Linked DNA regions of Homo sapiens. The protein of the gene in region 1 purifies or fractionates together with the protein of each later gene. This does not show direct contact. Each region holds a gene or a part of one and is shown on either strand. Other genes may lie near its edges.

Region 1 (4,473 bases):
TCAACTGGTTGGTCATGAGTCTTGGTGACCCTAGTATTTTCTCCTACAGACTGCTTCTCAAGTGGTGCTAAATCTTGTGTTCTTTCTCTTGCCCCCAGTGTCCTTTCTGCTGCAGGTGCGTTTTTGCTGTTCACAAATGCTTCTGCTGTGCCTTCTTTGGTGTGTTCTGCCTCTTCTCCTGAGACTGCTGTTCCTTCAAGTTCAGGGTGAGTCTGATCTCCTCCTTCTGAGCTTAGATATTGTGTCTCAGAACCTTTTTCAGCATCTTTTGATTTTGATAATCCTTGGAGTTCCTGATACTTCCCATCCTGTGTTTGGGTTTCCAGGACTAGTGGCCGAGTTTTTCTGTCACGTTCTTTCTGCCCTGCTGTTCCATGGGCCTCAGGACCTCTCCTCTCTTTCCTTTCATCTCTCATGTCAGATGTTTCTGAACCATTTCTGCTACCATATTGGACTGGCAGGTCCTTTGTTTCACATTCTTTTTCTTGGGTCTCAGATGTTCTGCCATAATCCTCAGGTTCACCCAAATTCTTTGTTTTAGCTGGTGTCTGGTCAGCATCCTTTCCTGGTTCTTGAGTGTCAAACATTCTACAGACATCCTTGGAATCAGTTGATTTCTGTGTCTGAGATGGTGACCTGGCAGCAGCTTGTTCTGGCAGGTCAGCATGCTGTGAACTGGGCTCATCTTCTCTTTGTAGGGGTGGTTCTTGTATATTAGAGTGTTTTTCCTTTTCTGTTCTAACTTCCTGATCTTCACATGGTCTTTGTGTTGCTTCTTTTGGTGGTGAACTTTGGGTTGCCAAGTTTCCTTCCTGTTCTCCAAACTGGTCTCTTATCTTGGAAACACTTTGCTCTCTGGCTGGTTCATCTCCTTCCTGGGAGATCTCCTTATCTTGTCCCTTCCTCTCTGTGGGACTGCTGGTCTTTTTTGATCCTGCCATTGGCTTATTTGTCTTAAGTTGGCCTTCATTGTCTTCTGTTGTTTGTATATCTTGAGCCACTTCCTGACTTTGTTCATCTCCTTCCAGGTGTTTGTTCTTAGGATCATTGTGTTCAGATGCTTCTCCTGGAAAGTTGTGAGTCTTGGCTTCTCTCCATGGGTCCACTCTGTTATTTCCAACTGCTCCACTTTCTTCAGGGATGAGCTGAGATGATGATGCCATTCCTGAAGGAAGCATCCTCTTTTCTTGAGTTGGTGAAGTTCCCACTGTCCACTGACCATCTCCGGTGGTTGCCTGAACATCCACATCATCTAGCTTCTCCTTCTCTGGTTTAGTCACCTGTCTTAGTTCAGAACTTAGTAATGATTTTATGTCAAGATAACAGAGGTTCAACAAGTTGAAGATTGCAAGAACAAATTCATCAAAACTGATGATGCCATTACTGTCAATATTCAGAAGATTTGAATTTTTTTCCACAGCATGAAGGACACAGGGCTGCATGAAAACACAGTGAGAAATCAGCTTATTTATATGTGGTCCAGTGTCCTAAGTGTCTCCCAAGAATCCTATTTTTCTGACCTCATTCCTCAGTAACTGGTTAACTTTCCCAGAACAGCAAGAACTTATTGGTTCTGCAAGCCATTTTTCATCAGAGAGCTATGCCTGAGAAAGAGCATTTACAACACTTGTGAGTTGCATTTTGATGCATAATGGTTTATGACTCCTTTCAGAAGTCAGCTTTGCAGAAGCAATAATCCCAGTGACGAAAACCTCTTTTTCTCTAAGTAATTGCACAGAGTATGGAACTGAGACTGAAAATAGTTGTTCAAGAGACAGTGAGTGCTGAGAACTGTTAGCTAGGTGTAAAATGGATGGGGATCACATATGCTCATCTTGCTTGGATTATAAAGAAAGGGTGAGTTGGAAAGAATTTACACAGCTCTGTGAGAAGCTCACCTGAAAAAAGTCCCCAAACTCGCCCTGGATGAGTTGTTTCAGCTCTCTGCCAGTCAGTGTTGCCCCGTTACTGTCCTCACTGGCATATTTGTGGAATGTCTCAATTACACAGAGGACATTTCTCAGGAGCTGAGGCATCTTTACAAACTCAGGAGAGGCTGTGAGAAAGAATAAACAAAGCTCATTTTCCAGGATGGGTCCTTCAGGGAGGAGATACCAAGATTATCCTTTTTGTTCCTCCCCCATCTCCACTGCAACCCCTGCTCTATTCTGTATCTTAAAATATTATATCTGAACTCCAGGGGTGATTTAGTATTGTACCAGACATTGTGGTGAAATCAGACCCAGCATAGGTAAGTATTAGAAGAGACAATTCACCCCACTCTTCAGTAAACAGCAACATTCATGTGCTCAGAGAAAGCTTCATTGCAAAAGGAAGGTGATAAGAGAACTCAAGCATAAGGATTGAAATGCATAAATGAAGCCAATAGAGTTGGACCCATTCTTCCAGCCTCATCCAAGAGTGTCTATCTGCTCTCCTCTCCCTTTGGCTCAGTCTAGCCTCCTGCGGTTAGGAGGGTATAACCTTTAAAGTTAGCAAAGCTTCTAGTGGAAAGATAAGTCACACCAAGAAAATTAACCCCTATGTTTGCAGGTGGTAACAACATGCTTTAACCAAGAAGACATGATTCCATGTCCCGACCCCTTATTCATTCATTTCCCATCCTTTAAATGCTTCTACATTTTCATTGCAATAGAGATCTGATCCTGTGCCTTGTTGAATAATATTCATGCCTATGACTTCTAAACAATTTATGTTTTTTTTAAAAAGAAAATGATCAAAGAAGTTCCATAATCAAGGAATGCATTTGGGTGGTTGGCGCTCCCAGTTTATTATTATTAATAGGGGTTGACATAGACTTAAAGTGTGTTTCCTTTGAAATCCTCTTGCAATCTCACATATAAGCAAAACAGCAACTGAAATCCCAAGTATGCTCAAGCAGATGGACTTACCTAGTTCACAAGCGAGAGCAGGTAGAACGTGGGGCAGCGGGCTGTGAGCTGACAGCAGGAGCTGGAACCTTTTATTGAGGTCCTAATTGCACAGTTAAGAAGGAGACACCCTCTGGGTCTAATGACCTGACATCACCACCAAATCCAGTCTCCCCTGCTCTGTTGTCAGTTGTCTTAATTTTATTTCCTTCTTTAGGCAGTTTCAATTAAATCTTAGCTTCAGATGCATCAAAAGAAAGGGGAGGGGGTTTCTTGATTCATTTACTGACTTTTGCAGATTATAGTTTTGAAGGCTCTTCAAGGTAGTGTTGGCTTCCCTCCCCCATTTTTTAACCTAAGGACATAATTACATTTCTGTCTGACAAATCATAGTGCTGGCAGGGACCTCATAAGTCATCTGATTCCTCTGTCTGCCCACAAGATGGCCCGTATTTGACCCAAACCTGAGAGATGGGTGTCAATCATGTGTTTAAAAATAAAGGCCCCCATTTAGCCATGTGACAAAAGTGGAGATACCAGTTGATTCAGATGTTTCAATGCTTTGCTCTCCTTGCCCAGAGGCAGAGTTAGAAAAAAAAAAAAATTCTTGCTTGGTGTGCAAAGCCTTGCTTACCTATGTTGTGCTATTTTAAAAACGTGATTGATATTTGCTTTCTAAAGACATTTTTACTATACAAGGAGCTTGAAACCAATAATCTATATTACTGTGTTCTCCCTGTAAAGGGGAAAGGGAGATGTTGAAATCATCAAGCTGAGAACAGAAGTGAGTCTGAGATGCTGAACTGGCAAACATTTTAATTGTCTCCTAGATCTGGGTCCTTCTTAGTAGAGAATATTTAATAAAATAAGAATTAGATTCAATGGTTTTCTTAGATATTTTTAAAAAATAGAGTATGTTTTAAAACACTCCTTGTCAAAGGATGGAAGAAATAGACAGATCAATGCAAACAAATATAAAAGACACAGACCAAGTTAAAGATGGGGTGGGAATGGGGGTAATTATATGAGAAAGCTGAAGCTAAGGGATGCATTGCTATTGAGCAAAAACCTTATTCTGAATTTCCTGATTATCGAGGAACATACAAGGGAACTAAATTTTGGGGAAAAACATTCATACTGATACTTTACACCTACAAACAATTTCTCAGCATCCTCCCAAAGGGAGAAGACTTCTGGGAATTGGAATTGGCATGTGAAGGTCATCTTAGTTCTGATTAGTTAATATCCCCAGAGTACCAGCTATTTCTCAACACTATGCCAGGAACTGGAGTGTTTAGAGTTGAGTAAGTTATATCTTCCTGCTCTGGAGCTCATGGGCCAGTCTCATGAAGAACTGGGTATATTCAAGGCTGGATTGGAAAGAAACACTTATGGGAGACATAATAACTGTCTTCAAATACTTGAAGGATTTTTATGGGTGTGGAAGAGAAAAGAATTAATGTTTATTGAAAACTTATGACATGTCAGGAGCTTTACATGGGCTATCTTAATCCTCACAGCCCTTTTAGGTAGTTATTATCCTCTTTTAACAGATAAGGAAGTTAAGGCTGTTAAGCAATTT
Region 2 (2,778 bases), on another chromosome or scaffold:
CTCCCGGGTAGGGATGCCAGAGTTCCTCCCTCTAGTCCAGGGACTCCTGCGGGGCCTTTTCGAAGGCCTGGGGAAGGCAGGATGTAAGGTCTCAAACCCAATTGCGATGGTCTTGGACATGAGCCCTCTCAGTAGGCTCCCCTTGGAGGAATGTGGGCAGAGATGCAGAGGCCTGTGAGCCCCAGAACTGCTTTACAAGCCACCAAGCCCATCCTGTCACCCACTCACAACTTGCTAGTGCTTGAGGTATGAGTGGAGGGGGGAGGAGCAAATTGGCCTCCAGCCTGACACCCTGATGGGGAGAGGTGTTCGCGGGATGGGGAGGGGGCTCCCTTTACTTGTCCTGCCTAATGTGTGGGAATATCTCTGAGAAAGGACGCTAAGGCTGAAACAGACTTTGAGAAGCCCCCACCCTTGGACTCTTCCTCAGCTGCGGAGTCCCTAGGACCCTGGGAACGCGCCAAGGAGCAGCAGTCAGGCCAGGAGCCTCTGCAAGGCGTCCATGGGAGAGCAGGGTGTAGGGCACAGGGGCCTGGCAGCCTCTAGACTCAAAATCCCGGCTCCACCAGGTAACCGTCTTGCAAAGACCAGTTTCCTTATTTACAACTCCCCCCACCGCGCAAGTGGAGGAGGAGCCAGCCGCGCCCAGGTCACAGTTTATTTGGCCCGCGCTACCAGTGGGCGGCCTGGCTGGCCGGCTAGGCGCCCTGCATGCGCAGCCCGCGTATGAGTTCGTGCACCGTCTTGTTGAGGATGCCCCCATGTACGCCGCGTCGGCCCATTAGCACCAGGAGCGCGCGCGGCGCACGGCCCACGCACACGGCGCGCGCGTCCAGCCCCTTGGTGCGTGCGTCCAGCACGCCGTCACCCTCGGCCAGCAGGTGGTCGCGGATGACGCAGCAGCGGCGGCCCCCCACGCTCAGGCCCGCCTGCAGGAAGGTGTGCCTGTCCGGCCCCGTGAGCACGCCCACCTCCTGCGGCGAGATGGCCGCCAGCAGGCCCCCGGGCCGCGAAGCCCACACGCAGCTGTTGTCCGCATGGCCCACGATGGCCACGTCGTCGATGCGCTGGTCCCGCAGCACTGCACTGATGTAGACCTTCCAGTCGCCCATCGCGCTCCGAGTGCGCCCAGCCGCCTCGCACCTCTCGGGGAAATATAGAGGCGCCACGCGGGGAAGGCCTGCGGCGCTGTGAGGCAGGCTGGGCGGGGCTGTGACGTCACACAAGGCGCCGTCCCGGAGCGACCACCCAGGCTGGGGCACGTGGGGCGTGGGCGTTTAGTGCTGTCGCAGTTCTAAGGTTATCCTGTAGGATGGGTTTGGCAGAGCGCAGCGGCTCACTCCTGTAATCCCAGCGCTTTGGGAGGCCGAGGCGGGCGGATCGCTTGAACTCAGTAGCGAGATTATAGTAAACTATTATAGGATCGTGTCGCTGCACGCCAGCCTGAGCCACAGAGCGAGGCCCCGTCTCTAAAAAAGCAAAAACAAATTTTAATTAAAAAAAATTTTTTTGAGATGAGGTCTCACTATGTTGCCCAGGCGGGTCAGGAAGTCTTGAGCTCAAACAATCCTCCCGCCTCAGCCTCTCAAAGTGACGAGATTACAGGCGTGAACCACCGCATCTGGCCAATCTATTTTTAATTTTAAAAAGCTGGTTTTGTGAAAAAAGGATGTTGTGTCTGGACAGCCAGACCTTCACTTGTAAGGGAACCAACCATTCAACCCCCAGATTGTGGTTCTTAAGCATGAGAGAACATCAGAATCCCCCGCAAGGCTGTTAAACAGATTGCTGGGCCCCACCCCAGACTTTCTGTTCAGCAGTATAAAGTGTAGCCCGAGAATTTGTTATGTGTAACAAGTTCCCTGGTGATGGTACTGCTAGCCAAGGGACTCTCAGACCCACTACACTAGTGCGTGTTGGGGTGGGGACAACGATATGTCACCCAGCCCTTAGGGTCCACGCCACAGTCAATGCTCTTTTTTTCTATTTTCTTTTTTCTTTTCTTTCTGTCTCTCTCTTTCCCTCCCTCTGTTCCTTCCTTCCTTCCTTCCTGCCGGTTCAAGTGATTCTCCTGCCTCAGCCTCCTGAGTAGCTGGGACTACAGGCGCACGCCGCCGTGCCCGGCTAATTTCTTGTATTTTAGTAGAGACGGGGTTTCATCGTGTTGCCCAGGCTGGTTTCGAACTCCTGAGCAATCCACCTGCCTTGGCCTCTTAAAGTGCTAGGATTACAGGCGTGAGCCACCGCGCCCGGCCAATGCTAAGTATTTCTAACCACGATTCTCAACCTTGGCTGTACATGGAATTATCTGGGGAGTTTTACAAATATACCACTACCCATGCCCCATCCCTAGACATACTGATTTAATTGGTCTGAGGTGGAACTTGGGCATAGATTGGCTCAAAACGCTCCCCAAGTGATCTTAATGTATGGTCTGAGAACTACTGCTCTGTAAACAAAATGTTAGTTTCTCATAAGGAATAACATGCAGCTTCTCCTTGCACAGGGCTTGGTATACAGTATCCTAGGCTCAGTAAACATTAGCTGGGCTGGCATCTAGATTTTGCACGTTAAGATCTCATAGACCTTGTTCTCTGAGAGCTGTGGAGAAGCTGTGAATCGCTTTTCTGTCTTGGCATTTCCCGGCGGGACCCATGAAGAAAAGAGCTTTCCTTCTCAGCATTTTCAAAGCACTTTATTGAGTTCCTGCGCCATCCTGGCGCGGAGCTGGCCGCACTGGGGGAATGGGACACAATCTTGCCTTCCATGCCCCAGCCA

What was found.
Region 2: the proteins of TCHHL1 (region 1) and PFN3 purify together in Homo sapiens (affinity purification with mass spectrometry; one large-scale study listed by BioGRID and IntAct). This does not show direct contact.

The regions. Positions count from the first base shown.
Region 1 is NC_000001.11:152,086,108-152,090,580, forward strand, and holds the start of TCHHL1 (trichohyalin-like protein 1), read right to left. Parts: upstream 2,958-4,473; 5' UTR 2,913-2,957; intron 2,057-2,912; 5' UTR 2,037-2,056; coding exon 1,899-2,036; intron 1,437-1,898; coding exon 1-1,436.
Region 2 is NC_000005.10:177,399,465-177,402,242, forward strand, and holds PFN3 (profilin-3), read right to left. Parts: upstream 1,198-2,778; 5' UTR 1,113-1,197; coding exon 699-1,112; 3' UTR 645-698; downstream 1-644. UniProt on the Homo sapiens protein: Binds to actin and affects the structure of the cytoskeleton. Slightly reduces actin polymerization.